Homo sapiens: one gene and its partners. The protein of the gene in region 2 interacts with the protein of the main gene of each other region in a pairwise test. Each region holds a gene or a part of one and is shown on either strand. Other genes may lie near its edges.

Region 1 (7,944 bases), on a different chromosome or scaffold from region 2:
GTCCACCCCCAGGACCTCACAACCAGACCCACAGGGTCCGAGCCTCAGCTACTCTCTCTGCCACCCACAGGAAGCAGGCGGTGGAGGCGGAGCTGCAGAGATGCAAAGCCAGGCTACACGCCATGGAGGCCCAGCTGCTGGAGGTCCTGGAGGAGAAACTGAGGCTGAGGCGGGAGCTGGAGGCCTGGGAGGTAGGGGAATGCCATCAGGGCCTGGGAGGTGTGGGGAAAGAGGGCACAGGCTCAGCCTTGAACCTGCTCTCCTGTCCACAGGAGGACGTGCAGCAGCTGGTGTGGCAGCAGGTCCAGAATCAGCTGCAGAGAGAGGCCAAGGGTACTCGGGGAGCCCACGTGGACCCTGGAGCTGCCAGCACCCCCCGATCCAGATTCTCCCTGGGTCGGGGACGTTGGTGGTGACACAGACCTCAGCCCAGGACTTTGGGAGTAGTGTCTTTATTCATTAAAGCCTGAGGTCTGACCACCCCTGTAAAACCTCGTGCCCACACAGTGCCTGTCTGAGTCCTTCTGTGCCCAAATGTGGAGCAGGCTGCAGAGACTTGAAGCCTGGGGTTTTGTGCCTCCTTTTTGTTTTGTTTTTTTTGAGACAGAGTCTTGCTCTGTTGCCTAGGCTGGAGTGTAGTGGTGTGATCTCGGCTCATTGCAACCTCTGCCTCCAGGGTTCAAGTGATTCTCCTGCCTCAGCCTCCAGAGTAGCTGGGATTACAGGTGTGCACCACCACGCCAGGCTAATTTTTGTATTTTTAGTAGAGACAGGGTTTCACCATGTTGGCCAGGCTGGTCTCCAACTCCTGGCCTCAAGTCATCCTCCCGCCTTAGCCTCCCAAAGTGCTGGAATTACAGGCATGAGCCACCACGCCCGGCCATCTTCTTGCCAGCAACTCTTAGACCAGGAAGCCTCGGATGGCAGCTATGAAGTCCTGTGGGCGGTCAGCGTGGATCCAGTGGCCAGCGTTCGGCACCGTCTGCATCTGGGCCCGAGGGAAGAGCCGCATAATCTCAGGGTGGTGGCTGGGACTGTGCATCGCAGCGACGGCCATCAAAAACGGGTGAAAGTGGGATGAGGAGGAGTGAAAGAGACACGTGGAAGCAGAACGGGGAGAAATGGAGAGAGCTGTGTGAGCCCATATGCCCGGTGGTATTTCTGGCCTCTCAGCCACCCCCCTTCCACACCCAAGGCCTCCCCTGGTAGGGTCCCCAGGCTGGGGCCTGGGCGAGTAAAGCATGCCCCTCCTACTACCCAGGCTAGCTTACTGCACGAACTGGGAGTTTCCACCAAGGAGAAAGAGTGTTGGCCCGAGGTAGGACTCCTGCCTCTGTGGGAAAGCCAAGATCTTGTCTAGGTGCTGGGTCAGGGCATCCAAGTTCACCCTCCACACGAAGCGCCCGTCTACCTCTACCAGGTTAGTGAGCAGGTGCTGCCGCACGGCCATGTCCTGTGGGGGTGCAGCAGTTGGGGGAGGTTCCTTGTGCGGTCTGGGGGTGCCACTCTTCCCTTGACAGGTCCTGGTCTACAATACCATCCGGGGCACCTTGGGTGTATCACCTGGATGACAGAACTGAGCTGTTCATCCGCCAGTTTTCGGGCACGGGAGCGGGGCAGCTCATCTGCGATGTTGATGGCCCTCATGGCTGCCACATAGGTTGCAAAGTGGGAGACACCTGTGCTTTCCACTGGGCTGATATCTACAGCAATGAGACGTTCCACCAGCTCTGGCTGTGGGAGAGAACCGAACTGGGACCAGTCTTAGGCAGACATAGGGAGTCTCAGGCATGGCTCCTGGAGCCTGAACTTGGTCATCCAACGATCATGTGAGTCCCAGGTTGCCTGCAGGGCCCTCAGGGTATATACTGAATGGGAGGAGGCCCCAGACATGGGCGGCTCACCCTCTGTAGTGCCAGCAGCATGGCTGTCTTTCCTCCCATGCTGTGGCCAACGACGACGCAGGGCACCAGGCCCAGCTGGGGCAGAAGGTCCTGCAGGTCCTGGCTCATGATCTCGTAGCTCATGTCTGGGCTGTGGGGGCTGTCACCGTGGTTACGAGCATCCACCGTCAGCACCTGGGGAGTGGGGTGAGACGGGGCTGCGTTGATATCCCCATTCTGGGGGTAGACAGCCAAAGGCTTGTAGGGACAGCAGGTCAAAGGTGTGGAGAGCCTGGGGATACACCCTGTGGAGGGGAAGGGCCCAGTTTCCAGACCTAGGAGGCCCAGATGAAGAACCTGGGGCCACTCTGCCAGAGAAGAGCAGGCCCCAGGGTTGTGACCACGTCTCTGAAGGGCTGGCCTGGCTGGGTGGCAATCTCGGAGAATGCCAGGAAGGAGACTCCAGGAATTTCCAACAGTAGGAGCACAGAAGAATGGGCTGCCATAAGAGGTGGTGAGCTCCCGGTCATCCCTAGTGAACAAGCAGGCCCCTTCATGGAAAGGGTGCAGGCGCCTAGGCATGGGCCAGCCCCGATGGAGATCTACAACATGAATTAATGAAGATGGCAACGTGAGGGAATAAATGGGGTTGCCGTTCAGGGTCCATACTCAGAGTGAGGGATCTGGAAGTGAGCGTGAGAAGCGGGACCCCCCCTGCCCCGCCTCCTCTCAGGCCCCGCCCACTCCCGCCCAGCCCCAAAGGAGCCCCGCCCACTCGAAAGCTCACCCTACGGCCTGTCTGCTGGGCCAAGATCTTGGCGATGGAGTTGAAGTTAGTTTTGCTGCCGAAGAGCCCGTGCAAAAAGACGACGGCCGGGAGGGCTGCCTCCCCGTCCAGAAGCCTGTAGGAAAGCGGAAGCGGCCTGGCAGGGGAAGGATCGAGGTCAGAGTCTGAGCCGGCGGAGACGGGGAAAGGGGTAGGGGGAAAGAGCTTTGGGGGAGAGGCCTGGGAGGTGACAGGCCCAAAGGGAGGAGATGGGGCCGTCGGGGCCCGGCAGGAAAAGGAGGACAGAGGATGGCCTCCCGCCCGGTGCCCTTGACTGACCTCGGCTCGGCGCCCCCTCGGCCGCCGCTGCTGCTGCTGGGTGCGACAGGCACCCTCGCGAAGCTAGGGCCGTGGGGGCCGAGTCCCTCACGCGGGAGCCTCCAGGCTCGGGTCCAGCGGAGCATGCTTGCAAGCTGTTGGCCGGCTCGCATCTCACAAGGTACGTCCTCCCCGCGCTCCTTCTCCCGCCCTAGCTCGCAGCCCCGCCCATTTCCGTCTTCAGCCGCCCCGCCCAGTTCCGACTTGAGCCCCGCCCTCTCCCCGCCCCCATCGCGGGATTCTCCGCCCTTGGTCCCGTTTCCTTACGTATCCCCGAGAACAGTCCGGCCCCGCCTCCATCCCCGCCCCTTACGCCATTACGTAATCCCCGCAGGCTTTGCGCGGGTCGCCCTGAGCGCCGCACCTGGCCTCGCCCTAGGCTGGGCAACCCGCGGTGCTTGCCCCTCCCCTCGCGAAGCGCCGCGGTGCGTAGAATCTGGGAATTCGGTCTGCGCCGCTCTGTGCGTGCTCGGTTCTGGTTGCAGCTTAGGGCTCGGTTCCCGCCCCGCACCTGCCATCGCTCACTGACCTGGGTGGCTGCCATCGTTTCTGTGCCGCCGGCGGGGGCGAGCGGCGCCAGGGTGGCTCTGGGCGGCGGAGTGCCAGTGTGGTGGCGCCGTGCTCCACTGCCGGGGGCCCGGGCAGGTTGGGCGGAGCACGGACACCCACCCATCCTGGAGTCGTCGATCTAGAAGGAGCTCGGGGGCACTCTAGAGCTCTTCCCCAAGCCCCTTCGTCCCTTTTACGTTTGGGGAAGGCTCCCCCAGTCTGATCCCACCTGCTTTTCTGCCCATACTCCCCATTCTCATACTCCCCTATCAGGCACCCTGCCTTTCAAGGTCTTCTCCACACCCCACCTCCTGCTGGGGTGCTGTCTGTCTTCCAGATAGCCAGTTGCCCGAGTCCTATACTTTTTTTTGGTGGGGGTCTTACCCTCGCCCAGGCCGGAGTGCAGTGACGCGACCGTAGCTCACTGCAGCCTCGACCTCCTGGGCTCAAGCGATCCTCCCGCCTTTGCCTCCCGAGAATCTGGGACTACAGGCGCAGACTAATTTTAACATTTTTTTTTTTTTTTTTTTTTTTACTGAATCATGGTTACAATTTTTTTTTTTAGGCCGGGTGCGGTGGCTCACGCCTGTAATCCCGGCACTTTGGGAGGCTGAGGTGGGCAGATCACCTGAGGCCAGGAGTTGGAGACCACCCTGGCCAATATGGTGGAACCCCGTCTTTACTAAAAATACAAAAATTAGCTGGGCGTGGTGGCGGGTGCCTGTAATCCCAGCTACTCGGGAGGCTAAGGCAGGAGAGTCGCTTGAACTCAGGAGGCGGAGGTTGCAATGGGCGGAAATCATGCCACTGCACACCAGCCTACCGGACGGAGACAGACTCCGTTTAAAAAAAAAAAAAATTGCCGTGGGTGGTGGCACGGCCCTGTAATCCCAGCTACTGGGGAGGCTGAGGCAGGAGAATCGTGTGAACTTGGGAGATGGAGGTTGCAGTGAGCCGAGATCTTGCCACTGCATTCCAGCCTCAGTGACAGAGCGAGACTCCATCTCAAAAAAAAAATTTTTTTTTTAAAAAATAGAAGCGGGGGCTTGCTATGTTGCCCAGGCTGGTCTCGAACTCCTGGGCTCAAAGTGCTGAGATTACAGGCATGAGCCACCACACCTGGCCCAACAAAATTTTTTTTAGAGAAGGGGTCTTGCTACCTTGCCCAAGCTGGTCTCCAGCTCCTGGCCTCAAGCGACCTTCCTGTCTCAGGTATATGGCTTTTATTTTATTTTTTCTGAGACAGGGTTTCACTGCGTCACCCAGGCTGGACTGCAGTGGCACAATCACGGCTCACTGCAACCTCTTCCCCCTGGGCCCAGGCAATCTTCCTGCCTCACCCTCCCGAGTAGCTGGGACCACAGATGTGCACCACCATGTCTGGCTAATTTTTTTCTGTTTTGTAGAGATAGAGTCTTACTATGTTCTAGGCATAGCAAGGGGACAGTTTCAGGCTGGTCTGGAACTCCCAGACTCAACTGATCCTCCTGCCTCAGCCCCCTGAGTAGCTGGAATTACAGGTGTGCTCCACCATGCCTGGCCTCAGCTATAGGCCTTTTAAGGCATTGTATAACTGCTGCCTCCTCCTCAAGCCTTCGCAGACTTTCTGAGTTAAAACTAATCTCTTTCATGGAATGTTCTGGAAGCATTTCTCAGAGGCTACTGTGTAGTATTATAGAGGCAGCCCTCCCTGTGTGTCCACAGCGGGAGCTATGTCTTGTTCATCTGGTGCAAAGTGGTAATAGTCATCAAGAGCTTCAGGGCACTGGTAAATGCTTATGTGGAAGTCCTGCGGGTGGCTGGGTTAGTGGCCCTCCCGGATATGACACCTGGGCCAGCTAGTCTTACACTGACCCCTCCCCCACCTCCTTAGGGCGGTCCAGGACCTACAGGATGAGTCCTAACTTTTTTTTTAAAAAAATAATTAATTAATTAATTATTACTATTATATTTTGAGACGGAGTTTTGCTCTTGTTGCCCAGGCTGGAGTGCAATGGTGCGATCTTGGCTCACCGCAACCTCTACCTACTGGGTTCAAGCGACTCTCCTGCCTCAGCCTCCCGAGTAGCTGGGATTACAGGCATGCGCCACTACGCCGGCTAATTTTGTATTTTTAGTAGAGACGGGGTTTCTCCACGTTGGTCAGGCTGGTTCAAACTCCCGACCTCAGGTGATCTGCCCGCCTCGGCCTCCCAAAATGCTGGGATTACAGGTGTGAGCCACTGCGCCTGGCCATTAATTTTTTTTTTTTTTTGAGACAGGGTCTGGCTCTGTCATGGAGGCTGGAACCTGGCTCACTGCAACCTCTGCCTCCCGGGTTCAAGCAGTTCTCATGCCTCAGTCTCCCGAGTAGCTGGGACTACAGGCGCGCATCACCACACCTGGCTGATTTTTTTCTGTTTTTGGCAGAGACAGGATTTCACCATGCTGGCCAAGCTGAGGATGTGTCCTAACTCTGTAAAGCTCCATCTCCTGCTTAATGGGACCCTGAGGTGTTTGGTTCCAATCTGAGGAGGGCTGAGGTCACCGAGGACTCTAAGCACACCAGGTGGTGTGATCATGTTTCCCGCATAGTAATTAGGGGAGTGATGAGGACATCTGAGCCCTGTATGGGGGCTGGTCCCAGGCCTGGGAGGGGTCCTTGGAGAGTGTTTTTCTAGAGTTGGTGGGTGTTTTTCTAGAGTTGGTGGGTGTTTTTCTAGAGTTGGTGGGTGAAGGGCGTGGGGGTTGAAGATTCAGAACAATAGTATTTCAAAGGTGCTTTTTTTTGTTTGTTTGTTTTGAGAGAGTCTCTCTGTTGCCTATGCTGGAGTATAGTGGGACAATCTCAGCTCACTGCAACCTCTACCTCCCGGGTTCAAGCGATTCTCTTTTGCAGACTCCCAAGTAGCTGGGATTACATGTATGCGCCACCATGCCCGGCTAATTTTTGTATTTTTAGTAGAGACTGAGTTTCACCGTGTTGGGCAGGCTGATCTCAAACTCCTGACCTCAGGTGATCCTCCTGCCTCGACCTCCCAAAGTGCTGGGATTACAGGCATGAGCCACTGTGCCTGGCCTCAAAGGTGCTTTCAAATTGATCCCTGCCATACACCCCACCCTCCACCAGGTAATCTCAGCCTGGCCCAAGATCCCCACATCTAGGGGCAGAAGCAGCCTTGAGATATTTACTCAGAGTCCTGGGCCCCAGCCCTGATCAGGTGGCTGATGAAGGCAAGCAGAAAAACCAGTTGGTTTGATGTTTCCACTTGAACATTCCAGAGAAAGTGGTGGGGGCAGGGGAGGGGTCGTTGCTACCTGGGAATGGATCTGGGGGTGGTGTCATCCTGGGGGCTGCCCAGCCCTCTCAGCTTGTTAGGAACAGGCCAGGAAGCGTGCTGTTGGTTGGCGAAGGCCTCCTTCTAGGGGAGGCCAGAGGGGAGGACTTCCGGAGCCCCTGACATGTGGAGGTGAAGGTGGGAGGTGAAATGGACTATCGCTCTTTGGAGGTCGAGTGTACACTGCCCCATCCGTGTTCCCAGGCTTCCTGTGAAGTGGGAGGGTGCCGTCCTTATTCTGCTGATGAGGAAAGAGAGGCTTGGACGGCGAAGTAACCCAGCTCCAGGTCACTCAGCCAGTGCACAGCCCGGATTGTTTCCTTCACTGACTCCTAACGCAGTGCTCCGTGTATTTCATCACCACCCTTCAGGCCGTGGGGACCAAGGGCCGAAGGGGTGCGGCCTGAGGCGGCCGGGACACTGCGCCTAGGTGGCGCGGTGGCATTGAATGGGTTAAGGAGGGGAGGTGGCGGGTGTCCCTTAACTGCACCTGGCCCAGTATCGGTCACGTGGCCAGGGTTTCACCTGCCCCGCTGAGCAGGGACAATCAGGCTGCTTGTTTTGTGGCCGGTCGCCATGGTGACAGCAGCTTGCCAGGGGCGGTCATGGGGCAAATTCCTGCTGGCCAGCCGGGTGGGGCAGGAGTGTCAGCTGTGCTGGCACCAGTCGGGGCTTCCCGAAAGACCCCTGGAGCTTTCCCGTGGGGCTGTCCCTGGGGGGCCCCTATGTGACTCCGCTCGAAACCTCCTCCCATCTCAACCCCCACATCAGCCCAGCTTCTCTCCTCCCAGATTTTGAACCTGAGTTGATGTATTAAGCAGCCGGGATTTTCATATACGTTATTGTGTTTAATCCTCACACAGCAACCTTTCCCATGTGGGAATGGTAATCCCTGCAGGTCTGCTGCCGGCTGCGCCTCCCCTACTACTCACCCAACACTTTGAGAACACTGGCTCCTTCCTGCCTTGCTTCAACAAGCCCAGATCCATTAGAGCCTCTCACTGCACGCCAAGCACCTTCCTAGACGCAGCCGTGAACAAAACAACAAATT
Region 2 (7,521 bases):
ACGTGCAACGCTTCAAAGAGAACATTTTCCCAACGTCCAGTTCGAATATGGACAAGGAGGATAATGATAAAGGAAAATCCTCCTGGAGGGCCGAGGGCAGAACCAAGTGGAATAGAGGATTGGCACGTTCTTCCCAAAGAGCAGAATGAGGGCCCAGCCACATATCCTTGTTAATTCTGGATAAAGACCCTGAAGATATCTGGCAAGCAGCAATTCAGAATTACCAGGACCAGTGACTGTTGCCTGCTTGCCTCCCAAACTTTCCCTTGAATGGGAGTGTTTGCAGGGGCAGGCATCCCACCTCTCTTAAGCCACTGTTCCTTGGGCCAGGGTGGGTAGAGGGGGGAAAAAAAGCATCTTTTTCTGGATCATTCTTTTGGAACTATAAGAAGTCATATCGGCCTAGCATGGTGGCTCACGCCTGTAATCCCAGCACTTTGGGAGGCCGAGGCAAGTGGATCACGAAGTCAGGAGATGGAGACCATCTTGGCTAACACGGTGAAACCCCGTCTCTAGTAAAAATACAAAAAAATTAGCTGGGCATGGTGGCGGGCGCCTGTAGTCCCAGCTACTCAGGAGTCTGAGGCAGGAGAATGGAGTGAACCCAGGAGGCGGAGCTTGCAGTGAGCCGAGATTGCGCCACTGCACTCCAGCCTGGGCGACAGAGCAAGGCTCCGTCTCCAAAAAAAAAAAAAAAAAAAAGTCATATCTGGACCTGATGTACACACTGCTACAAATCGCCTGCAGACTCTGGACTTTGAGCTATAATCAGTGGCTTGCTGGATTGCTTTTTGGATTGTTTCCCTTAAGGAACAATTGAGTGTGTAGGAAGAAGAGAGAAAAGGGATCTTCGCTCATCAGAAGATATGACTGTGGCAGAGACAATATACTTTCCAAATATTCCACATACTCCCTACTTGTCCCCTCGCAGATGTGGGGTGGGGGGGCTGTGGAGGCCACCTTCTGGGTGGTGGGCTATTAATAGAAATAACATGCATTACCACTGTACTAAAGTATTTAAATGTTTTGTATTAGCGCAGGCTGCCATAAGAAAAACATGACACAGAGTGGGTGACTTAAACAACGGAAATTAATTTTCTCACTCTGGAGGCTGGAGTCTGAGATCAGGGTGCCAGCATGGTTGGGTTCTGGTGAGGGCTTTCTTCCTGGTTTGGAAATGGTCACCTTCTTGAGGTCTTTCCTCCGCATGGCAGAGAAGAGGGACTGAGAGGTTTCTTTCTCCTTCTTATAAAGCCACCGATCCTATCAATCAGATTAGGACCCCACCCTTATTACTTCATTTAACTTTAATTCCATCTATAAAGGACCTATCATCTCTGGCTCTTGTCATAAAGATATAAGAAGTTTGGGGTTTAGGGTTTCAACATATGAATTTTGGGGAGAAACAATTGAGTCCATAGTATGCTTGTTGGAGAATGTTCCCACCTTCTTCCCCTGCTATGCATGGCAATGAGGTAGGTTAGCATGAAGATGTCTGAGTCACAAGATTGCAGCATCCTAGGTTTCTGAATCCAGGTGCCCTGGTGATCTGTCCAAGCCTGCATCAGGCATAGCTTGAGTGGGAAATAAATCTTTGTTGTATTGAGCTATTGAGAATGGGGGTTGACATCATTAATGTTTTTAAAATGATACAACTTAACCTATGTTCCTAATACACAACCCTCCTGGGATGTATTTTATTACAATTCCTATATTATATTGAAATCATTAGTTGATCTATCTTACCAAGTACACTATGTGCTCATTAAGGGAAGGGACTATGTGTTACCTATTTTTGTTTCTTTAGTTCTTACCATAGTGTTCGATAAATGAAATAAAGTAGCCCAGAGAATAAATGAGGTTTCTGGTGCCACAAAAAGATTTAAATCATAATATCTAATTGGGTTTTAATTACAAAGTATAGAGTAGCAAAGGCCTCCATGAAAAAAATTTGCATCAGGGATGTTTTCAATGTTTTAAAATCATAGGTCTATATAAACCCTTGCTTTAATTCCAAAGAGATAATGCCAAGACAAAGTGTTTAGGAACCTAGTGCCTTTTCCTTCTGTGTATCTAATCTGGTAAATCTCTTGCTATGATAATACCAGGTCTGCTTTTTTTTTTTCCCCCTCGGAGAGAGCATTAATTAAATGACTTAGGAAACTGTTTTTATTGAGAAATGGAGACTCTGATCTTAGTTATTGCTCAATTAAGTTTAAAGTTCAATACATTTTTATTGAACCCACACATACTTTAACGTGAATTGCTTTTTACTAATTGGTCTGTAGTAATCACAATGACAGTTTTGGTCGCCTTTTAGGCTTCTTTTATTCTCATTCAGAAAGTTCCTAAACTTCATTCATAGTCATTAAATCAAGAATGATTTCTGGAATCAAGAAGATAAAGTCAAGAGAGCTGTGAAGTTCTGGTTTGATCTCCTCCCATGATTTGTGAAACGTCACCACATTCACTCATAGGTTTCTGTATCCCAGGATATACCACCCCCAGCTGGCTTTATTCAAACAATGAAGCCATTCATTGATTAATTCCTTCATTCAACAGAAGCACATGTTTTTACATTTTAGTATTTCTGAAATTGGGGTATATTTTGTTATGACATCGTCTATGGAACAGCAGCCTCCAAATGATGGCTGCCAAGTGGTGGTAGTGATGTGGCTGCTGTTGCCTGTGTGTACAGGCTCAGGATTTCCTCACTTCAATTGAAGCTCTGTGCAATGTTGGCACTTCATGTCTTGTGTTTGACTATATTTTAGTTAATTGCAACTCTTCAATGTTTCAGTCAAGAAATGTTTTAGGACCATTTGAAAGAGAAACACGAGACCTTGTTGTCTAAAAACCTACTGTGTACACCTTCTGGTAGATAAACTTTGCACCAACAAGCATAAAAAACTTGCAGGACAGATATCAGTAGTTCAGAAGAAAATCTTAGAGTCCCAGCAGTACACTCTTTTATGAAGATATGTGTACCACTAACACTCTTGATGGCAAATCAAATGATATTTAAAAAAAAAAAAAAAAAAAACCAACCCAGAAGGGCATTGATAACTCTGGGTTAGTACAGAAATGTTGGAGTCCATATGTGAGAAATTCCTTAACTAACTTAGACCTTATAGTGTATATAACATAATTCATATTTATTATGTATTAATTATATTTTTATGCTTTTGTATCATATTTAAGAACTTTCTGTTTTATCTTTCCTCTTAACCACTTGGTTATGCATTAGAGAAAAGATTCTTTCTCTTTGCATCCCTGACCAACGAAGGTTTAGGAATAAATTAAGCCTACCTATGACATCACAGAATCCTTAATTGTATGACATATAACATTTGCTACCACTAACCACCTTTTCATAATAACTATATTGCAATATTTAAGTATTATTTTGCATTTCTAATTGTTAAAAATTAGTAACTGGGTTTTTCCCAGGTTTCTAAATGGAAGCAATATTATCAAAGTTAGTGAGACACATATTTTAAGCACCAATTTTCTACTAGTAAGCATCATGCTGAATATGGGTGCTTAGTTTTTGAAAAATAATTCATACAAAAGATCAGGGGTTCGCCTGAATTTTGGCCATGCAGGCATTTTCACTCATCTTGATTTTTGCTTACAATATTTATGAGGTAACATGAAGTAAAAATGTCAAGTCAGCAGTTAAATAAAGGAGTTTTGTCTTTCACAGGATAAAATTGTACATAATCATGAATCTTATCACTTCCTCTGAAGGTCTGGTATTTTTTTGTGATTATCTTGAGAAAATATGCTTGCATGGCAAATTGGTTGTTTCTACCTTTAAAATGCAAAGTTATGATCCTTATGGTAAAAGAGCAATTGCTCCGAGCTGATGTGAGACTATGAATACATCTCCTGGGCGCCATGCTGCGCTGAGGATGATTACCATGGAGAGTTTCCTGGTCCTTGTTCTCCTTCTGCCCCACACTAGGTGAGTGCTCCTTGAGACTTATGGCATATAATTATAATTACAAGGGTGACTGAAGGATGCTTCTCCAGAATAAACGATGTATATCCATTCCTACTGTTCATGTCTACATGTCAGTTTTACAGCAGAATTTAACAATGCATTTGAAAAAGTGTGTCAATGAAAAAAGTATTTTGACATATCCAATTGTATTATTTTCATATGTATTATTTGTACTAATACTACTATTAGTGCATATAGTAGTATAAATAAATAGCTAAAATTTATACCAAGTGATATGCCTTGGGCAATGAGCTAATAAAACCTAGAAAGTGTTGGCCTTTGGCTTTGGTTTGCTAGCATGACTGGCCATGCCTTACCTGCCAATCTGCCCTCTAAATTGTCCCCAGTCTCATCACCAGTGACCCCATCAGTCCAGACCCAGGGAACACAATGTCCCACTTTTATTTCTCTAGATCAAGTATGGACAAGACCTTCCCCCACTGGCTCATTTTAACAACAGTGAAGTCATCTGGAATTTACAAAACAGATGCACAAAATTATGGACAATTTCTCAGTCACTAAAGAGCAAATGACACCCAAAATTCAGAGAAGGAGAAACACACAAATGAACTGTGTCCAAAGGACAGATCTCTAATCTCAAAGACAAGGAAATAAACAGAGGGAAAAAAATAGATACCAAATTCCTCTATGAAATAGAAAGATCTTAAAAAACTAATGTGGACAGGTATAAATGGAGTGAAAATTCTGAATAACCATTCTTCATGAAAGAAAATGACTTGTTATTTAAAATTTTGAGTGGAAGTCTATTGAAACGTTGTAACAGACAAAATAGTTAAATTGTTTTCCATAGAAAGAGGAAGATAGGTATATCTAGAAGGATCCAAGGGAAGGGATCCTGGAGGTAGTGCTGGTAAATGATGCAAAAACGAAAACAAAACCCCAACCCCGACAAAACCTTAACAACAACATTCAATTCATATATATATATATATATGTATATATATGTAAAACTAACTGATATGGTTTGACTCTGTCCCCACCCAAATCTCATCTTGAATTGTAGCTCCCAAAATTCCCACGTGTTGTTGGAGTGACCCAGTGGGAGATAACTGAATCATGGGGGCAGTTCCTCCCATGCTGTTCTGATGGTAGTTAATAAGTCTCACGAGATCTGATGTTTTGATAAGGGGAAACCCCTTTCACTTGGCTTCATTCTCTTCTCTCGTCTGCTGCCATGTGAGATGTGTCTTTCTCCTTCTGCCATGACTGTGAGGCCTCCTTAGCCACGTGGGACTGTGAGTCCATTAAACCTCTTCCTTTGGTGAATTGCCCAGTCTTGGGTATGTCTTTATCAGCGTGTGAAAATGGATTAATATACTACCTTTTTAAAGCCAGTAAAAAAATAAGGTGCATCATAGATTTTAGGTCAGTGAATCTCTAAAACATGTCAACTCATTTTCATAGTCATAATTTTTAAAATAGTAAACATATCTTAAAAATATTCATTTTCTTATTAGAATTTGTATTTCCCAATGGCTATCGGAATGTGATTACACTATTGCACTCTCAATATCTAGGTAGACAGAAATAGTTGAACAAGCTCATAACTACTAAGTAAACACAGGATCTAATGCTTTTCAGAGAAATCAGTGTGGTAGAGACTTTAATATTACTGTAGTGCAAAAGGGCCCCAGACTGGTAAAATTACTCCAGCTCAGGTTTTTTGTTTGTTTTTTCCCTCCTTAAAATTTTAAGAGACATGGGACCTACCCTAGCTGGCTAGATAGATATTATTAGAATGTGACATTGAGTAAATATTTAGCAGTTTTTAAGAAGAAAGTTATAAACTTAAAAATATTATATCAAATGCAATAAAACTTCACTATAATTGCCTTATAAGGCCATGAATTCATTTTAAGAATGTGATAAATCATGTACCCTGGGTGAAGATGGAAGCATTAAACATCTCCTCATATAAAATCCCCAAACCTAAGTCTTATCTTGGATGTGTGACAATACTACAATGGGGTCATAGCATAAAGACAATGATTTGGTTGGTTGTAGTTTATGTCTAAATCCGTGTTTATTAATAATGATTGTGAATCAAGGATTCATTTCAGACCCTTATGGATTCCAACCATATGCTGTGATCAAGAAAGCAGTATATTTGCCTAAAAGCAATATTTAAATTTATTTAAAACTTTAAAAAAAGATTGTTTGCTTATTAAAAAACACTCACAAAAACAATGCAAGCAAGGACATGCTGCCTTTAATTTTATGGAGGTCCTTTTGCATACAGGCACACCGAAAATATAGTATTGTAATAATCTTGCAAAACATATTACATTATTAAAATAATTACAAAACCAGTTTGAGTTTGATGGTAGTGTAAGAAACTGAAATTATTTTGAATGGGGTAATTAGCCTGCCAAAAAACTAACAGAATTGTATTCATGTTATTAAGAATCTGAAGAAATTATGTATTTGGTAACTTTTACCCTGAATGAAAACAGTGCTCACTGGGGGCAATGATGGACAGCACTCTCTTTCAGGACTCTGTTATACAGACTCTGTTATACAGACAACTCCTGCACTTGGCTGCTGCACTAGATCTTACCTTCCTGACTCAAACGTGAACCACGTTGAGTCCCGACCGTATCTCCTCAGTGAGCTGAGAGGCCACATCACCAGTTTGACCTTGGCATTGTGGATATCCCAGAGATAGATATTTTCATGAGTGATCTGCATTGTGCATTCACCATAAATATCCAGGTTTGGTGTAGGCATAAGATACACGTTGAATCTCTCTGTGAAGAGACGAAGAATGGAGAAGGTTAAGTGAAAAGAGGTGTGAGTGTCTATGGCCATACGATATTAATTTGTTTATCTACAGACTGCAGGAAACATGACCACATCCTCCCTAGGTGATATGGATAAACATTGTAGAACATGACATATTTCAAAATTTGTATGAGAAAAGGAGTTCATTAAAGTGTTCTGAATCATTAATTCATTCATTCACTCAACGACTTTTCATTGCATGTATTGTCTATGGTGAGGATTAAGTAGTTAAATTGTACAATGGAAAAATAAGGGCAAAAGTTAAGGGAGTCTCTGCCCAAATTGTGCTTATGGTCTGTTCCTTCACACAATCTAAGTGGATATCACAGATACGATTCCAGCGAGGGATGTCTTATTTGCTCTCCTTAGGCAAGATCTTATTTGATTTTTACCTTTGTTGATGTGAAGTATTTAATGCACCCTCAGACTGACTCACTAACTACTTAAGCACTGGAAAAATCATTTAGTTTGTATCTCAAAACAAATTGTAGTCATGGTCAAATTTAGCATATGATAATTGCAGATATTCATTACAGCCTTCCGCAGAACTTAAGACATTGCTTTGGTAAGCAAAATAAAAATACTTAACTTTTTTCATTCCTGGATATCCTATGGCTGAAAATATTATTAGGCAATGATTCCAAACCTTACTTTGTAACTGTCTGTCTGTGTTTCTTAAAGGCTATTGCAAAGTTATGCTGCCTTTGATTCCC
Region 3 (7,521 bases), on a different chromosome or scaffold from region 2:
AGCCTTCAACACCTGGGCTCAAGTGGCTCTCCTGCCTCAGCCTCCTGAGTTGCTAGGACTACAGGCACATCCCACCATGCCTGGCTAATTTTTAAAATATTTTTGGAGTCAGGGGTCTCACCATATTGCCCAGGCTGGTTTGAACTGGTTTCAAGCGATCCTCCCACACCCCGAGTAGCTGAAATTACAGGTGTGGAGCCACCGTGCCCAGCTGTTATTGTCTTTTTTCATAAAGGCCATTCTATGGTATGCAGTGGTATTTCATTGTGGTTTTAAGTTATTTTCCTTATGACTAATTGAGCACCTTTGCCTATGTTGATTAACCATTCAGATCACCTCTTTTTTAAAATGCTTGTAAAAATCTTTTAACCATTTCCTGTTTTTCTGTATTAATCTGTAACAGTTCTTTATATATAAGTATCTTCTCCTTCTTAGTTGCCCTTCTTTCTCTTAATGGTATCTTCTGATGAATAAAAGTTTTAAATTTTAGGCCGGGCGCGGTGGCTCACGCATGTAATCCTAGCACTTTGGGAGGGTGAGGTGGGCAGATCATTTGAGGTCAGGAGTTGGAAACCAGCCTGACCAACATGGTGAAACCCCATCTCTACTAAAAATACTAAAATTAGCCACACATGGTGGTGGGTGCCTGTAATCCCAGCTACTTGGGAGGCTGAGGCAGGAGAATCACTTGAGCCCAGGAAGCAGAGGTTGCAGTGAGCCAATATCGTGTCATTGCTCTCCAGCCTGGGCGACAGAGTGAGACTCCGTCTCAAAAAAAAAAAAAAAAGTTTTAAATTAAATTTATTTTTTTGGGTTGGTCCTTTTGTGTACTTGTTAAGAAATCTTGGCATACCCCCAGGTCAGAAAGACACTTTGTTCTGTTATCACCTAGAAGCCTTACTGTTTGATTTTTCATATTTAATCCTACAATCCAGTTGGAATAGATTTTTTTGGTATGGTGTGAAGCAGGAGTAAAGGCATATTCTGGACTGCAGTGGCGCAATTCGGCTCACTTCAACCTCCATCTCCCAGGTTCAAGCAATTCTCGTGCCTCAGCCTCCCAGGCAGCTGGGATTACAGGCCCGCACCACCACGCCCAGCTAATTTTTTGTATTTTTAGTAGAGACTGGGTTTCGCCATGTTAGCCAGGCTGGTCTTGAACTGGCCTCAAGTGATGTGCCTGCCTCGGCCTCACAAAGTGCTGGGATTGCATGTGTGAGTCACCGCGCCTGGCTCTTTACTGCTTTTATGTGCCACATTTTTCACAAATCAGTGGACTATATATGTGTAGGTCTGTTTCTAGATTCTCTTTTCTGTACAATTTGGTGTATTTGTACTTGGATTAGTACTGCACTATGTCAATTATTGCAGCTTTGAAATACCTATTGATATCTGGTAGTATAAATCTTCCAGCTTCGTTCTTCTTCAAGGTTATCTTTGCCTTCCTTCACATTTTGCAGTTCCATATGCATTTTAATATCAGCTTCTCACCTTCCACAAATAACATTGGTGCATTTGCATACTGTTTTTTCCTGTTCTTTTTTATTTTTTCAGTAGCTGGAAAACAACACTTAATTTGTATTCTATCATAACCTACTTTTTTCACTCACCTTTTTCCATGTCAATAAATACTTTTTTTGTTTAACAATATATAATGTTCTATTGTTGATTCCAGCATTTTTCCTTTACAAATAACAATGTGATGTACAGTCTTAATTTTTTTGTCTTTTCTGTGCCTCCGTGATTATTTTCTTGAAAAATTTTAAGCATTTATACTTACCATAAATATTGAATACCATTAGACCATGTGTTGCAGGAAAAACTAAAACAACAGTTCCTGGCCTCTGGCTTATAGTCTAGGGATTATAAAATATATTCATAATTCACTGTAATTATGTATAGAAATGAGAGGCAGTATAATAAGTGGTTAAAATCTGAATTCTAGTGTCAGAGTGTTTGAGTTTGAAAACCTTCTACTTGCTATCTATATGACTCTAAACAGTTACTTTTCTTCTTCGTGTCCTAAACTTCTTATCTGTTTGGGAAAAAAAAATGAGCCAAGTGTGGTGGCACATGCCTGTAGTCCCATCTACTCGGGAGGCTGAGCAGCTGGGAGGATTACTTGAGCCTGGGAGTTCAGGGTCCAGCCTGGGCAACATAGTGAGACCCCCATCTCTTGAAAAAAAGAAAAAAGTGGATAAAGTAATTCTAATAAGGGGTTGGGAGGTTTAGATGAGGTAATATGTTAAGCACTCTGGTGTCTAACGCACAGTGGGTCAATTAAGTGTTATTATTATGATTGTGATTATTTCTAGAAAATAAGGACTATAATTGGGTCCTGGTAATTGTCTTTTTTTTTTTTTTAATCATTTTAAAGTTTTTCTGGAAAGAGAAAGCCTCTGACATGGGCTGAAGGTGCTCTCTCTTCTGAGTCCTAGGAATTGTACAAATAGGTACTCCTTGGAATCTGTGATTTTCATTGTTTATTATTATTCTAGAAACCCTAATCTGCTCTAACAGTGTTGGGCTCATAGTAGACAGCACATATGTATATTAAGTGAGCAAATAAATGAATGTAAATGTGTTCTAGAGAGACTGGTTTGTGAATTGAAAGAATTGTGATGATCTAATTAATGTTTTGGTTTCAGGTTTGAAAGATTAGAAGTCCTGGCTGTATTTGCCTCCACAGTCTTGGCACAGTTGGGAGCTCTCTTTATATTAAAAGAAAGGTACATTTGTATAGGATATTATTCTAAATCCCCCCATGACACCTTTGGGAACATGAAAGAAACCCGTCAGACACATTTGCTTTCAAGGGTATGAAAACTTAGATGAGCAGGGCTGGAGTTTTGATAGTACACTTTCTTTATGTTTCAGACTTTTTCTTCTGTTTCATTTTTTTTACTTCCTTCCTTAATGCTACTAAATTGAATCAGAAGTGGTTGTGAATGAAACAGAGATTCAGTCAGGCATGTTTGATGCTTATTACAAACCCATTGAAATAGGCTTGGCAGAGAAAGATAGACATTACATATTAAGGATAATTTGTGAAAAAAGAAAACAACTAAAAAGGATAATTTATGAGTCTCCTTGCCTCATCACTGCTAATAGTTAATAGTTATAATATTAAAAGATTTTGTGAACTTTAAGGTGGGTGAATGATATATTTAATAAAGCTTTTTAACTTTATAATTTATAGGACTTATTTAATATATTTTTATTTCTTATAGTGCAGAACGCTTTTTGGAACAGCCCGAGATACACACGTGAGATTTTATTTTCAATATATAATTTACTATTGATTCTTAATTATTAATTGATGTATTATTAAACAGTTGGCCAATGTCAGATTTCAGACTGTGGCAACATAACGTTTTTGCTGGTATTTCACAAACAAAATTCCCTAATACTAAGACTCCGTTTCTTTACTCTTAACAGTTCCCAAGTTCTAAATATTTTTATACTACACAGGAAGGCCTTTCTATCTTGGCTTCAGGCTTCTCATTATTTCCAGGCCTAGGAAACACTAACCCAGCTTCCCCTAGTCTTCTGTAATTTCAAATTTGACCTTCAAAATCTTTGCATAGCACCTGTAGAAAAGAGAATTGGACGAGGCTCAGGGATTCAGTGTAATCCCAGCACTTTGGGAGGCTAAGGCAGGAGGATCGCTTGAGTTCAGGAGTTCAAGACCAACCTGGACAACAGAGTGAGACCCTGTCTCCAAAAAAAAGAAACGTATATATGTTTCATATATATTGCAACTATGTGATTTTCATATATATATGAAAAGAGAATTGTATGTATCATATATATGAAAAAACAATTGTATTTCTCAACCACAGAGCTGCCAACTATATGGACCTTATCTATTCTGATCAGTTTAATTCCACAAAGTCTGACTTGTCCAGTATATCGTAAAACAAATACCATTGATATTTATACAGATTTATAACAGCGTTTACCTGTAGCAAGATACTGTTAATGCTAAAAGTCCTTACTTATCCTTTGTAAGATGGAGCAACAGTAGATGGGACATGGGTGATGGGGCTAGTAACTAAGTTCAGATTCTGTATCTGGAAACACCAAATCATTAAAGCAGACCACTTTACCTTCCCACCTCTTAGTCCCTCTACGTATTGAAATTACATACTGATAATACCAAGAACAAATTAAAGGTGAATGTTATCGTTGTTCTTTTTAGGGGAAGATTATTAGTTGGTACTTTTGTGGCTCTTTGTTTCAACCTGTTCACGATGCTTTCTATTCGGAATAAACCTTTTGCTTATGTCTCAGAAGGTATGTTTTTTATTTACTATTAATTTAAAAATCCAACTAATCTCTCATAAAAACAAGCCTTTTGTTTGTTTCGTTCACTCAGATCAATGAAGAAGTATATTCTGAAGACAAGAGAGAACTAGCCCAAATGTTCTCAAGTCTTTTTTAAGTGGAAAATTATAAAACAAAATCTCATTAGTTCAAGCTTTAAAATAACAAATTATTTTAAAACAGGCAGGAGTGACCTGTAAATTAAATCATGTGGTGATGAAAAATTACATTTACCAAATAATGTGAGATTCTAAATGTGTAATCTATCTAAGAAAAGTCTATTGTAAGCATTTTAGAAGTATCAGTATACTTAGAATTCTTAGTTGATATGCTAATTGAAAATAATTGTATTCTGTTAATAAAGTAAGTTCCCAGGAACTTCTCTTTGGCAATGGTGGATGGGCATATATGTTTGCAAGTAGCCAAACTTTATTTCTTTGGAAATATTCTTTTATTTTGAAGTATTTACAACTTCAGACTGATTTTTCACTTTTGCAGTCTAAATTATTTTCTTTTTTCAATAATTTCAGTGTTTTGGAATCCCACTAACCCACAAAAGAGTTAGCCACTAAGAGATGGAGAAGTGAGGTGAAAATAGAAGTGGGATGTGTGCACAGACCCACACTTTGAAGTATAGAGAAGCACAGATAGGTGTGGATCTTTTTAGATCTCACTCTAGGATAGTCAAGAGAAGAAAGTTTTCTGAAATGCCCATTCAAGTTTAAACAACTTCATGAATGTTATGAAGATAAATTGTGTTTGTATGAGTTAAAGAAGTACTGCATGAATTAGAAAATTAAATAATGATAATTAAGATCACTAGAATTTCTTGAAAAAAATTCATAATTTATAAAATACTATAACACTTACTCTAGAAATTTTTAAGATGGTGCAAAGATTTAGAAACACTGTTTCCCTGTAAAGATCAGGGAGATACAAGAAGGAAATAAGACTACTGATAATCTTATGACCCACAGATAATATGTTAACATTTCTATGTTATTCCTTCCACTTTTTTGTATGCACACGTACATATAATTTTATGTGCTTACTTAGAATTGTATATATTACAGTTTTATGCCTGGCTTTTTTTTTTTTTTTTTTGAAACGGAGTCTCACTCTCTTGCCCAGGCTGGAGTGCAGTGGCGCAATCTTGGCTCACTGCAACCTCTGCCTCCTTGGTTCAAGGGGTTACAGGAATGTGCCACCATGCCTGGCTGATTTTTGTATTTTTAGCAGAGACGGGGTTTCCCCATGTTGGCCAGGCTGGTCTCACTCCTGACCTCAGGTGATCTGTCCACCTTGGCCTCCCAAAGTGCCGGGATTACAGGTGTGAGCCACTGCGTCCGGCCATGTCTGGCTTTTTGATTAGCATTATGTCTTCAGTATTGCTTCTCATTAAATACTCTTTGAATGTAAATGATTTTTTAATGTTTGCATAATATTGTTATGAATATTTTAAAATATTTTATACATTTCTAACTTTTCCTTTTATAAATAACTCTATAATCAGCCTCTTTAGATCAACTTCGTCTGCATTTTTTATTCTTTCTGTAGGATAAATTCCCCGAGAAGGAATTATTTACTGGATTAAAAATACAGTATTTTTCAAAGGCTTTGTTGTATATTGCCAAATTTATTTCCAGAAAAGTTATCTAGTTTATATTTTTATTATATTATATTATATTTATTTATTTATTTATTTTTTAATAGAGACAAAGTCTACCTGTGTTACCCAGGCTGGTCTCAAACTCCTGGGCTCAAGCAGTCCTCTCACATCAGCCTCCCAAAGTGCTGGGACGACAGGCGTGAGCCACTGCTCCCAGCCTACTTTATATTTTCATTAGCTGGAAATGGAGGTTCCCAGAAACATCAAGATTTGTGACATTAGCTGGGCTTGGTAGCATGTGCCTCTAGTCCCAGCTACTCAGGAGGCTGAGGTGGTTGTATTGCTTGAGTTCAGGAGTTTGAGTTCAGCCTGGGAAACATAGCAAGACTCTGGCTTTAAAAAAAAATGAAGGCTGGGTCTGGTGGCTCACACCTGTAATCCCAGCAGTTTGGGAGACCAAGTCAGGCGGATCACAAGGTCAGCAGTTTGAGACCGGCCTGGCCAACATGGCAAAACCCTGTCTCTACTAAAAAATTATAAAAATTAGCCGGGCATGGTGGCAGGCGCCTGTGATCCCAGCTACTTGGGAGGCTGAGGCAGGAGAATCCCTTGAACCCGGTAGGCGGAGGTTGCAGTGAGCCGAGATCACGTCATTGCACTCCTGCCTGGGTGACAAAAGTGAAACTCCATCTCAAAACAAAAAAAAAAGAAAAAAGATTTGTGAAATTACTTGAAATTTGAGTGGGAAATAATATTAAGTACTTTCTATATGCCAAGCACTGCTAAATACTTTACATAGAATAACCTATTTAATTCTAGCCAGGTAGGTACCCAGGTTCTCACCTGGCTTTTTTGAGAGTTGAGGGAATTAATTTGTATGTAGTTTGAATATCCCTTATCTGAAATGCTTGGGGCCAGAAGTGTTTCACATTTTAGATTGTCTTAGATTTCGGAGTGTTTGCATTATATGTATGGGTTGAGCATCCCAAACCTGAAAATTTAAAATTCGAAACGCTCCTATGAGCATTTCCTTTGAGTATCATGTTGGTGCTCAAAGTTGTGGATTTTTGGTTTTCAGATTTGGGATCCTCAGCCTGTACCTATGGCCCGTTCTCAGCACACTAGTTAGGAAGCTCTGCTTAAAAGTATAAAGAACTGCTGGGCATGGTGGCTCACACCTGTAATCCCAGCACTTTGGGAGGCCGAGGCAGGTGGATCACCTGAGGTCAGGAGTTCAAGACCAGCCTGACCAACATGGTGAAACCCCGTCTCTACTAAAAATAAAAAATTAGCCAGGTGTGGTGGCACGTGCCTGTAATCCCAGCCACATGGGAGGCTGAGGCAGGAGAATTGCTTGAACGCGGGAGACAGAGGTTGCAGTGAGCCGAGATGGCACCACTGCACTCCAGCCTGGGCAGAAAGAGCAAAACTCCATCTCAAAAGAAAAAGTGTAAAGAACCTTTAAAACCTTAAATTAATAGTAACAATGACATAAATTCCTTCAGGTCAACTGTATATTGTATAATAGTTGAAACTGCTTTTGAATTAGTGGCATAAGGGCATAAAAGAGGAAACATTTATAGATT
Region 4 (7,521 bases), on a different chromosome or scaffold from region 2:
GCTAGAACTGCTCCCCAGCCAAGCTCATTCATTAATTCAACAGCTCCGCACCGCTCCTGGGCAGGTACCCGGGATTTAGAGATGAATTAGACTCATCACCTGCCCCAAGGGCTCTGGCTAGTGGGGAGACAGATATGTCACTGAGGAAGTGACACAGTAATACGAGACGGAGCTCAGGGAAGCTTCCGGGAGCATCACCAAGTTGGGCAGAGAGGAATGAGCGGGTGGAAAGCCAGAAGTAGGTTGGTGGGGAGTTCTCAGCAAGGAGGAAGTAGGGGCCAAGGGCCTGACAGACAGCAGCAAACTCCCCCTTGGCATCCAGACAAGTCATTCTCTCCCCGAGGGGCAGCAGAGGTCCCAGGAGGGCCACAGGCCAGTGCCCCCAAGCAGACAGGACACACACACACACACACACACAGTGGCACCTTACAGCTAGACACACACACACACAGCAGCACCTTACAGCTAGAGACACACACCCACACACAGACACACACAACAGCAGCTCAGAGCCAGAGAGGAAACCAAGTCCGCAGGTAAAAATTATACTTTTATTTGAGTCACCAGGAGAAAGATTCACTTGTGGTTCAAGTCAAATGTTCAGAATCATAACAGGCCAGAAAGGTTTGATCCCGAGCACAAGCCCACGAGGGAGGGGACCAAAACAGACCAAAATGAGACAACAACCCCATATAAAAAGATGAACTGGCGGCTTCACACACTCACACACATACACATACACACGGATGAAATGTTTGGACAGAGGCAAATTTCACGTGGTCATTTCTGTTTCTTTTTAAATACAGGTTTGTAGGGTGGTATTTTGTTTTTTCCAGCTATAAAAAAAGGCCCAAAAGTGCATGTGTGAGGGGGGAAAGGCAGAAATTAAGCAATAAAGTCATTTTCCCTGGAGGGACATGAGAGGGAGAAAACAGGAGGCAGTGCTGGGAGAACGCACTTTCCTCACCACTGGGCTTCTTGTTATTCTTAGTATTGGTCCACAAAAGTTATATTCACATTCTAGCTTTGATGCCTCTTTCCTGGGATTAAATGAGCTGAAAGACCTCTGTGAACTGTAGAGAAGACCAGGGGCTCAGCCCAGCCCAGCCCAGCCCCTCAGGGCTCTGTGCTCTTCTAGGGATGGATGGTTTTGGTAAAGAACAGACGCCCAGCAGCCCCCGGTCACTCAGCACCAGTGTGACAGTCCCTCCTCTCTCTGGGGGTGTGTAAGAAAACGGCCCCTATTTTTAGGACAGGAAGAGTAGAGGGAGGGCCTGCAGCAAGATTCCATGACTGGCTTGCCTTATCTGGGAAGGAGAATTAAGCTGAGTGAAAACAGGCTGCTTCTTGCTGCTCCTCCCTTCCACTCACCACTCTCCCAAACTCAGGTCCTCTAAGGGGATGTGTCCCTGACCTTTGGTCCCCAAATCCACATTGTGCTTTGAGATCAAGAGGAAACAGAATGCACCAGCGCCACCCAAGACTCCCAAGAGATTCTCTGCCTCCCCGAGCCCCCAAATCGCCCAATATAAGATATTCCACTTGCCTCCACCTAGGCTGGGGCCAGAAAGGAAAAGGGATGGGTCAGGCAGGGCCTCCCCACCCACAGTCTTTTCCTCAACCTCTCATTCGGGGCAAACATCCCCAAATCAATTAACAAGCAGTTGACAAAAACACCCATGATGACTGATTGTTGAACAGGCCAATACCTTCAGGTCCTGCCCCTCACCTGTGGGTACAAGTGTGCCAAGGGACAAGAGGCCAATGGCAGGGCCTGGTTGGGCTCAGGATGAAAATGGGATGGGGACTCCCAGAGGGTGGCAAGAAAACCAGAGATGAATCAAGTGAGGCCAGGGTTGTCACAGCCACCCATGAGCAGAGAGCAGGAACTGGATATAGCACCGTCTTTCCCTCCCCATCCCCGAGGCTGTGCTTCCAGTTTTGCAGCCCTGGGACCCTCTTTCTTGCTTCAAGGGAGCTTTATGTAAGTGAGGGGGAGGTCTAGGGGAAGAGCCCCCGAGGGAGACACCCACAGGGTGACACTTCTGCCACCCTATTCTGTAGCCCCAGACAGAGATGGGGAAACATATGCCTGGAGTGACAGAGCCTTCCTCCACCGCTTAGCCCCAGCAGGCTGCAGACCCTATGGCAGCCCCAACTCCACACCAACCTCTTACCTTCCACCCTGCACACTGCAAAGGGCAGATTGGTGGGCTTCCTCCACTCAGAGATGGGGGGAAGGAGGAATTTCATTCCAAAGAAAACCTAAGGAACTTCTCTGCCCCAGGAGCCCTCCCCTCTCACTGTGGGTTCTGAGGAAACTCTCAGGGGAAGACAGCTCTTCATACCCTCACATAACCCCACCCACACACAGGCCCAGAGACACCTACAGACACACCCCCGCCCCATCTCTCACACTCACACTCACACACTTGCGTGTCAGACACCTGCAGACATACATGCTCCTGCCTCCGCACACCAGGTCTTGGAGATTTAGTGGTCCCTGCTGACTTTGTGCAGCTCCAAGTCCACTTGGCATTGGGCTGGGGAGGGGAGGTCATGGAAGGCTCTGAGACATCTTCCCATGAGGAGCAGGGAGGAGCGGCCACCTAACCCAGATCCTGGGGGCTGAGGGAGGCTGAAGACCAAAAGGTCCTGAGGCACCCTTGCCCTACACTTCGGGACCATGGCTTCCAGCCTAGGAGGCAGGCAAGGGTCCCTGGAGACTGGGGGTGGGCGTGGGGAAAGGGGCTGCGGAAGAGAACTCCTTGTTCCCCTCCTTCCGGTAGCTGTCCCTAAAATTAAGAAAGGCAAGAACCTGACCCAAGCTGTGCTTCCTCGGGAGCTCTTTGCCCGCTGCAGGTCTGCGTGGGCAGGAGGGCAAAATCACAGTGTGCGAAGGAACGCGCGGGGAGGGGATGAATTCGCCCCACAGCAGGAACCCCATTCTCCTGTTGTTGCCCCTGAGGAGGGAGGTAGGGAGAGAGACCCCAGGTGGGCAGAGCCCCCTCTTTGAGAAAGAGAGGTAGAGCCCATCCCACTGGTCCCTACACAGCGGCAGAGTCCCCATCGCCATCCCAGGAACCAAGAAGTGGATCCCACTCTGGGGAATGTAGGGAGCCCCTGACCTGGGGTCCTGGCAGTCAGGCTCACCCCAGCCCTGGAATGTGTGGGTATGTGAGGAGCTGGGCAGGAGGATGTGAGGGGAGAGAACAGAGGGGCAGGTGAGGCCCACAGGCCAACAGGTCTCCCATTCCAGCCCTGCCTCCCCCAGAGAGGCCCATGCCCGTTCCATCCAGAGAGAAAACCAAGAAGTCGATCAAGGGGGAAGCCTGCCAGAGGAGGGAGCCCGCAGAAGTGGCAGAAGAAGGCTTCAGTTGGCAAAAGAAGCTGGAAGAGGGGTAGGAATCACAAGCTGTCGCAGGTTTTAAAAAACAGAGACACTGAAGAATGGACGGGTCACGCCCAGGACGGATGCGATGCCGTGGAATGTGCTGAAGACAGATGGGGGCGCTGCGGGTTCAGATGGCCTCCACGTAGTTGGCCGGCAGCATCCCCGTGTCGCCGGTGCGCTCCACCGTCCCGTACATCCAGCCGTCGTCGATCTGCTGCACGTTGACGATGGTGTCCCCGTCCTGGAAGGAGACCTCGTCCTCGTCGGCGGCGCTGTAGTCATACACCGCGCGGTACCGCTTCTGTGGGGGAAGTGTGGTCAGCCTAGGGCCCTGCATGCCGGCTCACCTGGGTCTGAGCATTTTTTTCTAACTCTCCACGACCCTGGAGCAGAGCCTGGGGGAGCAGTGAACTCAGAAATGGAGCACCAGGCTCTGCTGCAAAGATTCTTAACCTCTGTGTCTTGCTTTCTGAGAGCAATCGATCTTTTACAACCTTTGGCAGCTACTAAGGGCCAGAGGCAGAGCAGGGACCGGGTCACATCAGCTCTGCCCCACCTCCCTGAACAGGACTGCAGTAAGGTCCACCAGCCATGATGACAGAGTAATGTCTAAAAATACGACATGCAGGCCAGGTGCAGTGGCTCACGCCTGTAATCCCAGCACTGTGGGAGGCCAAGGCAGGAGAACTGCTTGAGCCCAGAAGTTTGAAATCAGCCTGGGAAACACAGTAAGACCCCCCAACTCCCTCTTTTTTTTTTTTTTTTTGAGATGGAGTCTTGCTTTGTCACCCAAGCTGGAGTGCAATGGTGTGATCTTGGCTCACTGCAACATCCGCCTCCCGGGTTCAAGCGATTCTCCTGCCTCAGCCTCCCAAGTAGCTGGGACTATAAGCGTGTACCACCATGCCCGGCTAATTTTTGTACTTTTTTGTAGAGACAGGGTTTCATCATGTTGGCTACGATGGTCTCAAACTCCTGGTCTCAAGTGATCCGCTCGCCTCGGCCTCCCAAAGTACTAGCGTGAGCCCATCTCAACAAAAAATAAAAAATTAGTTAGGCTTAGTGGTACATGCCTGTAGTCTCAGCTACTCAGGAGGCTGAGGTGGGAGGATGGCTTCAACCCAGGAGGTTAAGGCTGCAGTGAGCTAGCTGTGATTGCACCACTGCTGCACTCCAGCCTGGGCAGCAGAGCAAGACCCTGTCTCAAAAAAGAAAAAAAAAACAGAAAAAACATGCCCTGTATGCTATTATTTGTATGATTATAAGCACCAGTAGTTTCTTTTAGAAGCCATGATGAGTCCTGTCCAAGTTCAGGACAAAGATCTTTCCTTGGGAGAAAAATCTTCAGAGGACAGAAGACGAGTCTATCAGGTTCCACCTTCCAAGCCTCAGCCAAAATCTGCCGCTTAAGCCCTAGATCTAGGTAATGTTCAGTAAGGCACACAAAAACCTACAGCGCCACCTACTACCAGGATGGAGTTTAAAAAAAGAAAGAGGAAAAAAAAAAGAAAAATAAATCCTATAGCTATAGACAACATTCTACCTCCCCTGACCTTCACTGCCCTTGACTGGTCTCTGAGGCTCCACAGGACAGTTTGAAACCAACAGGTCTATGGGATAAGAAGTCACACCTCCCATGAAGTAACCTCAGTCTCTCTCATCACCAATTCTGCCTCTATCTTGGGCTGAGCCACTCCCATCCATGCCTATATCCTGCAACAGCCTCCTGACGGTCTCCCTGCTTCTACCCTCAAACCACTGCCTCTTCTCAACACAGCTGCCAGGGTGGTCTTCCAAAAACCTATGTCGCTCTGCACAGATCACAGGTCACAGAGGCCTTCCTGGGGCCCACAAGTCCCTGCATAATCGGACCTCCCACCCTCTCCCACTCTAGTCAATTCGGGCTTCCTGCTGCTCCCTGAACTTTCCTAGAATATTCCTGCCTCAGAGCCTTTGCACTTCCTGTCCTCGTTGCACGGCTCACTCCTTCCTTTATTGAGGACTTTGCTCAAATGTCACGTCTTTTTTTTCTTTTTTTTTTTCTAGCTGGAGTTTTGCTCTTGCTGCCCAGGCTGGAGTGCAAATGGCGTGATCTCGGCTCACTGCAACCTCCACCTCCCAGGTTCAAGCAATTCTCCTGCCTCAGCCTCCCGAGTAGCTGGGATTATGAACATGCACCACCATGCCGAGCTAATTTTATATTTTTAGTAGAGACAGGGTTTCACCATGTTGGCCAGGCTGGTTTCGAACTCCTGACCTCAGGTGATCTGCCCACTTTGGCCTCCCAAAGTGCTGGGATTACAGGTGTGAGCCATCGCACCCGGCCAAATGTCTTTTTTCTTTGGAGATATTGCTCTGTCACCCAGGCTGGAGTGCAATAGTGCAATCTTGGCTCACTGCAACCTCTGCCTCTCGGGTTCAAGCAATTCTACTGCCTCAGCCTCCCGAGTAGCTGGGATTACAGGTTACAGGCATACACCACCACACCTGGCTAATTTTTGTATTTTTGGTAGACAGGGGGTTTCACCATGTTGGCCAGGCTGATCTCGAACTCCTGACCTCAAGTGACCTGCCCGCCTTGGCCTCCCAAAGTGCTGGGATTACAGGCGTGAGCCACCACCCCCGGCCAAATGTCTTAATCCAGCTGCTTTCTATCCATCCCTCACCCTGCTGTCTTTCTCTTCACAGCGTGTCACCGCTGACCTTATGTTATACACCTATTTTCTTATTGTTTTCTTGTTTGTCCCCCTGACTGGAATGTAAGCCCCCAGAGGGCAGAGAGGTGGCTTTATATTCAGAGATGGACCCTACACATCCAGGACAGACCCATTGAGGAGGGAGGGACTGGCTGGGCTGCCTGGAACCTTATACTTCAGACTAACTCTTGCGCCCACAGTGCCCTGGGCAGTCCTAACATCCCTTTGTTTGTGTGCCCAGAGCATCAGACTCCAGCCAGCCATTATCTCAGGCGATTTTATCTCTCTAAGTATCTGTTCTGCTCCTACGTGAGCTACTTTGAATTCCCAGGCACCCAGCCTGGAGGCGCTGAGCCTGCCAGGAGCTTGGTAAGGGTGGCTCAGCGGCACCCATGGGTGGAGTGAGTGGCAGGACTTACAGAGCCGGGACTTCAGCTCTGAGGGCTCAGGAAGCCTGATCTCACCCCATTCCTGCTGGGCTTATTCACTTGCTCTAGGCCTGGCTCAGAGTAGGTGAACCAGACGGACGCTGCCAGGGTCCCCAGCCCAGCAGGGGACACAGAGAAGGTGACCAACACGAAGAGCTCTTTTTAGTTGGAAAAAGTGCTCTGAAGGCAGCCAGCGGAGTCGAGTGATGCAAAGCATCAGGGTGATGCGCTTTACACGACATGGCTGGGGAGGCCCCTCAGAGGCAGGGGCAGCCTGAGAGCTGAAGGATGTGGGGGCCATCCTCATGAAGCGAGGAGAGCAGCGCCCAGTGCTGGAAGGCCCCATGCAGAAAGTTGCCTTGTGTGTTCCCAGGTAGCTGGGGTAAGGAAACCCCACCCAAAGCAGGGTGAGCAACCTGCCCATGGTACACCAGGGCTGGAACGCAGGGCCCCAGTCCCAGCCAGCCTCTGCCCACTACGCCAACCAATTTCCTCTCTGCTCACAAGGCTGAGATCCTTATCATCACACACAACAGAGGGTGGGTGCAAAGGTCAGGAGAATCCATGAGCTGTGTCCAAGCCTTCCCGAAGGACCCCCTGCCTCTGGCCTCTCCCCTCCGGCCAGGGTTACTCACCCCGCCACCACCTGGGGCGCTGCGCTGTATGGAGACTGGGGCTGCAGGCTCCTTGTAGCCACCATAGGACTGGGCCACCGGCTGCTGCTGGGGCTGCTGGTAAACTGGAAGATGGGAGGAGACAGGGCTTGGAAACTGTCCTGCCAAACCCAGCCCCTCCCAGAGCTCCCGAGAAGTCCATACCATGCACTTCCACCCCGCCCCCAACCTGGCTCAAGCCCCACAGCTCAAAGGCTGATGTCCACGTGTGCACATTTGCCTGTGTGTTGTATCCCACGCAGGGGCTCTGAGCCCCATGACCTGGGGGCCTCTCCTTTCAATCCTCTTGGCCCAGTACAGGCCTGACCCTGGTGCTCACGTCCTCATTC

The links.
Region 1: the proteins of DOK6 (region 2) and ABHD11 interact in binary tests that used the Homo sapiens proteins (3 or more experiments, as listed by UniProt).
Region 3: the proteins of DOK6 (region 2) and SLC30A6 interact in binary tests that used the Homo sapiens proteins (3 or more experiments, as listed by UniProt).
Region 4: the proteins of DOK6 (region 2) and LASP1 interact in binary tests that used the Homo sapiens proteins (3 or more experiments, as listed by UniProt).

What each region holds. Positions count from the first base shown.
Region 1 is NC_000007.14:73,735,658-73,743,601, forward strand, and holds ABHD11 (sn-1-specific diacylglycerol lipase ABHD11), read right to left. Parts: upstream 3,146-7,944; 5' UTR 3,141-3,145; coding exon of another isoform or gene 3,114-3,140; coding exon 2,989-3,113; intron 2,807-2,988; coding exon 2,671-2,806; intron 2,486-2,670; coding exon of another isoform or gene 2,079-2,485; coding exon 1,905-2,078; intron 1,735-1,904; coding exon 1,564-1,734; exon of another isoform or gene 1,454-1,563; coding exon 1,272-1,453; intron 1,035-1,271; coding exon 902-1,034; 3' UTR 437-901; downstream 1-436. UniProt on the Homo sapiens protein: Catalyzes the hydrolysis of diacylglycerol in vitro and may function as a key regulator in lipid metabolism, namely by regulating the intracellular levels of diacylglycerol. 1,2-diacyl-sn-glycerols are the preferred substrate over 1,3-diacyl-sn-glycerols.
Region 2 is NC_000018.10:69,697,657-69,705,177, reverse strand, and holds part of DOK6 (docking protein 6), read right to left. Parts: intron 6,775-7,521; coding exon 6,585-6,774; intron 1-6,584. UniProt on the Homo sapiens protein: DOK proteins are enzymatically inert adaptor or scaffolding proteins. They provide a docking platform for the assembly of multimolecular signaling complexes. DOK6 promotes Ret-mediated neurite growth. May have a role in brain development and/or maintenance.
Region 3 is NC_000002.12:32,189,688-32,197,208, forward strand, and holds part of SLC30A6 (zinc transporter 6), read left to right. Parts: intron 1-2,648; coding exon 2,649-2,729; intron 2,730-3,230; coding exon 3,231-3,266; intron 3,267-4,201; coding exon 4,202-4,296; intron 4,297-7,521. UniProt on the Homo sapiens protein: Has probably no intrinsic transporter activity but together with SLC30A5 forms a functional zinc ion:proton antiporter heterodimer, mediating zinc entry into the lumen of organelles along the secretory pathway.
Region 4 is NC_000017.11:38,914,779-38,922,299, reverse strand, and holds the end of LASP1 (LIM and SH3 domain protein 1), read right to left. Parts: intron 7,322-7,521; exon of another isoform or gene 7,258-7,321; coding exon 7,154-7,257; intron 3,696-7,153; coding exon 3,522-3,695; 3' UTR 530-3,521; downstream 1-529. UniProt on the Homo sapiens protein: Plays an important role in the regulation of dynamic actin-based, cytoskeletal activities.